Linked DNA regions of Homo sapiens. The protein of the gene in region 2 purifies or fractionates together with the protein of the main gene of each other region. This does not show direct contact. Each region holds a gene or a part of one and is shown on either strand. Other genes may lie near its edges.

Region 1 (3,137 bases), on a different chromosome or scaffold from region 2:
CTAGTTAGTATGAGTCAGGGCTAAATGTTAAGTCTCCTGATGCTCACTGGGGCACACCATCTCTCAGCATTAGGTGCCAATACATAACATGCCAAATGGGTTTGATGTGAGAAAGGAAGTGTCTGCCTTATAGGAATCACTTGGCCTGCATCTACCCCAGGATTTCCAAGCCTCCCTTTGCCAGCACTGGAAACGCATTTTGAGAAATTGGAGTTGGGGCCAGAAAGCATTCTATTCCCATCACTGGAATCTGTGTGGCTTCTATTTGCAACTCCAGTAGATGTGAAACTCTTAAAATGATTTTTTCCAGGGTAGGAAGGAACACAATGATGTCTTTGGCTAAACAGTGCCGGGCTACTGCACAGTTCAATCCTGAGCTAAGTGAAGGGGGAAAAGTCCGGGGCACTAATCTGGCGTGACTGGCAGCACCCGATGGGGTAAGGAGGACAGATGAGAAGGGTAGGAGAGGACTGGTGGGGATAGGGGAACAGGGAAGGGATGGAAAGGCCTGCTTCTGAAGGCTTGCATCTAACAGAAAAGGAAGGGAACCTCCCTGACTTACCATGCGGGACCCAGGTAATTTTCATACTGGAAGCACAATCTACAAAATGCTTCCCTCCAACCCATCCCCATAGGTACAATTTTACCAAATAAAATCATTCATACTCACATCCAAATTTGCCAATCTGAGCAAAATATAGTTAGTAACAAAGGAAGGCAATTTTCATATTTTATCATTCATCATAGAAAAAAAGCTTTAATATTTTTTAATTAAATACAGAAGAAAATTGTGTTGCCAGAGAGATTGTTTGCCTGCCTTTGAACAAATTAACAACACCTGTTTGCAAACAAAAGAATTTCCAGAATGGAGTCAAACCCTTTATTCTCTGTTCAGGACCCAGCCCATTCATGTCTTTTGTATACAGTATCAAACACATAGTAGGTGCTGAATAAGTATCTGCTGACTGAATGGGGTGCCTCTTTTATCCCTATCCTTTATTTCCCAACCCTAAACTGGATCTTGATCCATGGGGAAAATATCCCCACCCATCCATTCCTAGAGTAGCCCTGTCTCTTTCAACAGTCTTTGATACATAACATTGGTTTAGAGACATATGCCTGAAGGGAAAAGAGGGAGGGTTTCAGGCAGAGAAAGAAACACACAAAGACAGGGCACAGAGACTAGGCAGAAACAAAAAGATCTAAGACAGAGAGAGAGAGTAACTGAAACACAGGTGCAGAGCGGGAACAACTGTGGGAGACAGGGACAGAAAAACCAAGTCAGAGAAACTTAAAACGCACACCATTGGAGATAAAGAGATAAAAGGGCTGGGCCAGAATGATCATCTTGAAGTTTCTACTCAGCTTTAATGTTTTCTGATAGAGAAAATGGCAGAGAGAGAGGAAGACACGGCCTAAGCAGGAGGATAAAGAGACAAAGGAAGTTAGTAGAGGCAGAGGCAGCCAGCCAGGCGTGCCTAGCCGGGAAGCCTGGTCCTACCCCGGCCTCACACCCACGGGGATGGGCTCCCATGCCCACTTTCGGCTCCTACCTTAAGTCCAGCCACCCTCTTCCCCTACCCGCCCCTAAAGATCTCCAAACCACTCGGCAAATCAAATCCTCTCTCCCCAACATCCTCCGTGAAGCATTCTCGCTGCTCCAGCCCGCACTCAGCTCTTCCCCTCTCAACTCCTAAAGCCACACCCACCTCCCCTAACCACAGGGCAGGGCTGTTTTCGAGTTTGCCCTTGGCTCCTATGAGCACATCTTGACTCCTGCAAAAGAACTGTGTGCTTGTCAGGGCTCCAGACCCTACCTCCTATATTCCAGTATTCTTCATGACACCAGCCCAATGCCCGGTCTTCCTAAGTGCTCAGTGAATACTTTAGGGCCTGACCGGCCCTAAAGTGCACGCGGGGACCGTGGCCGTCCCCTGGTCAGTTTGGCAGGCTGGCCACGCTGAGGCCATCTCCTGGGCTCCTGCGCCCTCTGCCGGCCAGGAGGGGACCCGCACGCGGGACAGCTCGCGGCCGGAAGGGCGCGCCTGCTGCTGGGAGGCTGGCGAGGACGCGGGCGGCCCTGGCACCGTCCGAGGGTTCTGGGAAGGGTGGTGGGCACAGCCAGGAACAGCTGCTGTGTTCCTCTTAGGCGTAGGAGAACAACCCCTCTCGCCCCTACACCTCCTCCGGCCCTGCCCGCTGGGCGCTCAGAGCTTCTCGTCCAGCTCCAGGCCCTGGTTATCCCGGGCGCCCCCGCGCTCGGGGCCTGGGCTGCCGCCGTGTGTCCCACTCAGGTAGTTCTGGATGGCGGAGGCGCAGTCTAGCCGCTCCATGACGGTCATGAGGTAGTGCAGCTCCTGCAGGCTGCCGTTCTGCTCCTCAAACAACTCCAGGATGGCCGCTGCGGGGCTGCGCTGGCAGGACAGGAACCTGGCCCGAGGTAGGGGAGGAAGAGAAGGGTGTAGGAGCAGGGAGGGGCTCCCCCCCTGCTGCAGGCTCCCTGGGCTGCGCAGCGCAAGGTCCGTCCCTTCCCCATCCTGTAGCTTTTGTCCTTGTCCTGCTCTTGCCTGCCTTCCAGGGCACAGGAGGTGGGAAGCCCCAGGGCTTTGAAACTTGAGATTGTCCTGGCTTGGAGGCCAACTCTGACCCCTACTCCTCTCTAGGCTTCAGTTTCCTCTTATTAAGATGAGGGCTTAGACAAGAGGACCTCTAAGTTTGCTACAGTTCTGATGTTCTGTAATTGCCTTCTCTACCTCCCCCACTCCAAATACACCCCTAGCCTCCCCCTAGCCTCCTAACTCCCTCCTTCCTCCCTCTCTCCTAGGCCACAACATCCTGCTCACTACTAAGGAAACAGTTGCTGTAAACCATGGCTTTTTATCACGACTCTCCCGTCCACTAAAACCTTCCAGAGTCTCTCACCTCCTAACCAGCCCACGCTCCATGAGCCTTTCTGGCTCATCCAGCACCTGGCCTTGCCCTGTCTTTATGCTTTCTCTCCTTTCTCCCATCCTGAACCCCCTTAGCTCAGGCCTCTCTCTTTCTCGCCTTGCACACACTACACCCACAGCCACCTCTGCTACTCCCCAAAACAAAATGGCTGATCTCTTCCCCATCACTTCCTCCCTGAAGCCCTT
Region 2 (4,598 bases):
TTTTGAACGATCCACCATATTTTTTTTCTCCTTTAGCTCAGGAAGTCCTAAGTAAGTAGTGGAAAAGAAAAACTCTTACTATATATTTTTTTAAGTTAGATGGAGCTTCTCAGACTGCCTCATCAATCCCATCTGTTTCTAACAGAGAGAAACATTGCTTCTATTTGACAAAGATAGTAACAAATAATATTGAAAACAGTGAACATCATCTAGTCAAGGAAAATAACATTCATCTTGCCTACCCTACTCACATTACATCAGACACAGTTTCAAAAACTCAGGTACCAAGATGAACCTGCATGATTCTCAATTCAAAGTTGAAAACTAAACTCATTTCACTTGCTCAGGTAACTGGGAGAGCCTTAAGAAGACAGGAATGAATGTCTATTTTCCCTTTCATATGAAAATCACAAATCTCTCCCCCCAAGCTGTCAAATTATTTAGTAATTTTTTTCTTACATGAATTCAAAGGTGAGAATAATTGCATTAAATCGAGGCATTTATAGAGTGGAAAGGCTCTGGGTTGGGCTTAAAAGTAAAGATGGAACTGGGATTGTTGCAAATGAGAGTGGAACAATCTGAGCTGACAAATCTGTGGAATGGGAACTGTAAAAAGAGTGTTCTACCCTGCTTGACTAGGGCAGGGGAGTAATAAAGGCAGGTAGTTGGGATAATGTAGGAAAAGCCCTCCTATGAAGTCAGTCAGGTAGGGTTGAGTTGTTATTCTTCTTAATCTATGCCTGTAACATGGTATGGTTTATGTTTATTTCTATAAGGAGGTATCATGCTTTGATTACTATCAAAAGTTGTTAGGGTTTACATTACCAAATCTCCTGAGAGCTTGAGATCAAAAGAAACAGAAGAAAAAAAAAAAAGTTGGGTGGGGCTTGGGGTTTTAGTACAAGGTGCAGGTGAGATGGGAAAAGCTTTAACAGAACCGGGTAAGGATAACACTAGCTGACTCTAGTACAGATCCGCATATGAACGAAAATCTTAAGGAATTGCTCTCATTTAGAAAAATTACTAAAAGCTAATACAAATTGGCACATTGTACTAAATTGAGTTTCTCTTATCTCTGCTATTACTTTTTGTTTCTTTATTTACTTATTTGAGACCAAGTCTACCTCTGTTGCCCAGGCTAGAGTGCAGTGGCAAGATCTTGGCTCACTGCAACCTCTGCCTCCCGGGTTCAAGTGATTCTCCTGCCTCAGCCTGCCGAGTAGCTGGGATTACAGGCGAGTGCCACCACACCAGGCTAAATTTTGTATTTTTAGTAGAGACCGGGTTTCACCACGTTGGTCAGGCTGGTCTCAAACTCCTGACCTCGTGATTTGAGACGGAGTCTCGTTCTGTCGCCAGGCTGGAGTGCAGTGGCGCAATCTCGGCTCACTGCAACCTCCACCTCCCGGGTTCAAGCGATTCTCCTGCCTCAGCCTCCTGAGTAGCTGGGACTACAGGCACGAGCCACCACGCCCCCCCTAATTTTTGTATTTTTAGTAGACAGAGTTTCTCCATGTTGGCCAGAATGGTCTCAATCTCTTGACCTCGTGATCCGCCAGCCTCAGCCTCCCAAATGGGATTACAGGTGTGAGCCACTGTGCCCGGCCTATTTATTTATTTATTTTGAGATGGGGTCTTGCTCTTGTCTCCCAGACTGGAATGCAATGGCTCGATCCTGGCTCACTGCAACCTCACCTCCTGGGTTCAAGCGATTCTCTTGCCTCAGCCTCCAGAGTAAGCTGGGACTACAGGCGCGAGCCACCATGCCCGGCTAATTTTTGTATTTCTAGTAGAGACGGGATTTCATCATATTTGGCCAGGCTGGTCTCGAACTCCTGACCTCAAGTGATCCGCCCACCTCGGCCTCCCAAAGTGCTGGGATTACAGGCGTGAGCCACCGCGCCCTGCCTCACTATTACTTTTTCCAAAGTTCCTTAAAGCCAAAGACCAGGAACCAAAAAATACGTAACTATTGATATTTAAAATAGGTTGAATTTAAAATCATATATAAATCAACATTTGAAAAAAAGTATAAACTGTATTTAGATGGAGTAGTGAAACAGTACTCTGACTCAAAATACTGTAAAAGGAATGACTTCTTGCTTTATTTAAGCAAGTGTGTTAGAAAAATGTAGCCAATCAAGGTATTCTGAATATCAGATTTAAAAAACCGGTGAATGGAAGGTGATTTCTGTCTTACGGCCATGACTGTTTATGACTTCAGAATCAACGAAGTTTACCTCTTGTCCCTTCCTTGGCTACAGACACTTTTAACTTTTTGCTCTCAGATGTTGATGTAGAGTTTAGCGGGGTGGAGGGCGTTTTCGGGAGAGACATAATAAACAATGCCTCCTATCTCTTTAGTAATTTGAAATAGTCCTCCGGAAAGCTAATTTAGACACAAATCAGCGCCGCACTGGGACTTGCAGGCTGCCACATAGTCCTGCAGGCAGAGGAAAAAAGATTTAAAAAAAAAAAAAAAGATGACAACTATTGAGTACTTAGGTTCAGATCGCAGTTTAGAATTCATCTAGCATGGTTCTCCTTCTTCGGGGCGACCTCTATGTTCTGGGGTTATGTGTAGCGACTAAGAAGCCTTAGTGGACCGTCAGGTCGGGGTCAAGGAGCAGGGCAGGAAGGACCCGCTCGGCGGACCCCGCAGACCGCCGGCACCCCTGGTGGGGGACACTCGCTGCAGGCGGCTCGGCTGGGGACCATACCTTCCCCACAGGCAGCGCTCTCGCGCGCCAGTTCCACAAACTCGCGAGTTGGGCAGGCCTCGCACTGCTTCTTGGTTTAAAATGACGGGAAAGGGACACCCGCGATCCTACCCACACATTGCGTACCCGCCCAGCATCCGCTCACTTCCTCCTTTGCTGGAACGCCTGTTTGTCGTCATAGAAACCCAGGGCCCCGAGGTTTAGCGCCCTCCATAGGGGCTGCCTTCAGCGGTGCCGGCGGAGGAGGGAGACAGCTAAGACAATCCCTACACCCTCTTGGAGTTTCTTATGTTCTAAGTCACAGCATAGGTTCAGTAGCAAAGGAGAAGAAAAACGTTTAATCCCGCCGTTGTCACGGAATCCGAAAGTGTCTCACGCCGGGGCTTCCTGCCGCGGGCCAGGCCAGTGCGCAGGCGCCGGTGGGGGTTAGCTCGAGGGGCCGACCCCTGTAGCCCGTGACGCACGCGGGTTAAGCAAGGGTCTTCTGAGTTGTTTCCATCTTTCTAGCTCTCTTTTTTGTTGCTTTGCATATTTTTCTTTCTCTTTCTTCCTCTTTTTCTTTCTTTCTCTTTTTTTCCCCTGAGACGGAATTTCCCTCTTGTCGCCCAGGCTGGAGTTTAATGGTGCGATCTCGGCTCACTGCAACCTCCACCTCCTGGGTTCAAGCAATTCTCCTGCCTCAGCCTCCCAAGCAGCTGGGACTACAGGCAGACGCCACCATGCCCGGCTAATTTTGTAGTTTGTTTTTTGTTTTGTTTTGTTTGAGACGGAGTCTCGTTCTGTCGCGCTGGCTGGAGTGCAATGGTGCGATCTCAGCTCACTGCCACCTCCGCCTCCCAGGTTCAAGCGATTCTCCTGCCTCAGCCTCCCGAGGGACTACAGGCGGGGGCCACCATGCCCGGCTAATTTTTGTATTTTTAGTAGAGACGGGGTTTCACCATATTGGCCAGGCTGGTCTCAAACTCCTGACCGCGCCCGCCTCGGCCTTCCAAAGTGCTGGGATCATAGGCGTGAGCCACTGCGCCCGGACGCTTTGCATATTTTTCTAAAAGCCAGACTCAGGGGGATGTTGGGTAATAAGAAACGCTGGGTCCCTTATTGGGTAAGCCGTCCAGTGCTTTACATTTCGGTCACGTCTTCCTTGGACCCTTAAATGCCTCCCCCCAGAGCACAAGGAAGGCCTCCTGGGCCCAGATTTTTCACCCCCTTGGGGCAGGGAAGGAGGATTGAGCTTAGGTGGAACCAGCTCAGGTATAATTGTCGGGGCTTCTGGCGTGAAAATCTGCCCTCAGGAAAGAATACCATCAGCGGCCGGTGGCTCACGCCTGTAATCCCAGCACTTTCTTAGGCCGAGGCGGGTGGATCACGAGGTCAGGAGTTCGAGACCAGCCTGACCAACATGGTGAAACCCCGTCTCTACTAAAAACACAAAAATTAGCCAAGAGAGGTGGCGCGCGCCTGTAATCCCAGCTACTCAGGAGGTTGAAGCAGGAGATTCGCTTGAACCGGGGAGGAAAGGGTTGCGGTGAGCCGAGATGGCGCCACCGCACTCCAGCCTGGGCAACAGAACGAGACTCCGTCTCAAAAAAAAAAAGAGTATCATCAGAGCCTTCGCACTGAACTGAGGCTCGGTTCGGTGAGGGATCATTTCTTTTCTTTTCTTTTTTGAGACGGAGTTTCACTCTTGTTGCCCAGGCTGGAGTGCAATGGCTCGATCTCGGCTCACCGCAACCTCCGCCTCCCAGGTTCAAGCGATTCTCCTGCCTCAGCCTCCCTAGTAGCTGGGATTACAGGCATGCGCCACCACGCCCAGCTAAATTTGTGTTTTTAGTAGAGACGGGGTTTCTCCATGTTGGTCAGGCTGGTCTCGAACTCCCG

What was found.
Region 1: the proteins of AXDND1 (region 2) and UNC5CL purify together in Homo sapiens (affinity purification with mass spectrometry; one large-scale study listed by BioGRID and IntAct). This does not show direct contact.

Annotation. Positions count from the first base shown.
Region 1 is NC_000006.12:41,026,166-41,029,302, forward strand, and holds the end of UNC5CL (UNC5C-like protein), read right to left. Parts: intron 2,431-3,137; coding exon 2,208-2,430; 3' UTR 730-2,207; downstream 1-729.
Region 2 is NC_000001.11:179,364,249-179,368,846, reverse strand, and holds the start of AXDND1 (axonemal dynein light chain domain-containing protein 1), read right to left. Parts: upstream 2,866-4,598; 5' UTR 2,847-2,865; exon of another isoform or gene 2,502-2,846; intron 2,444-2,501; 5' UTR 2,338-2,443; coding exon 2,241-2,337; intron 48-2,240; coding exon 1-47. UniProt on the Homo sapiens protein: May be essential for spermiogenesis and male fertility probably by regulating the manchette dynamics, spermatid head shaping and sperm flagellum assembly.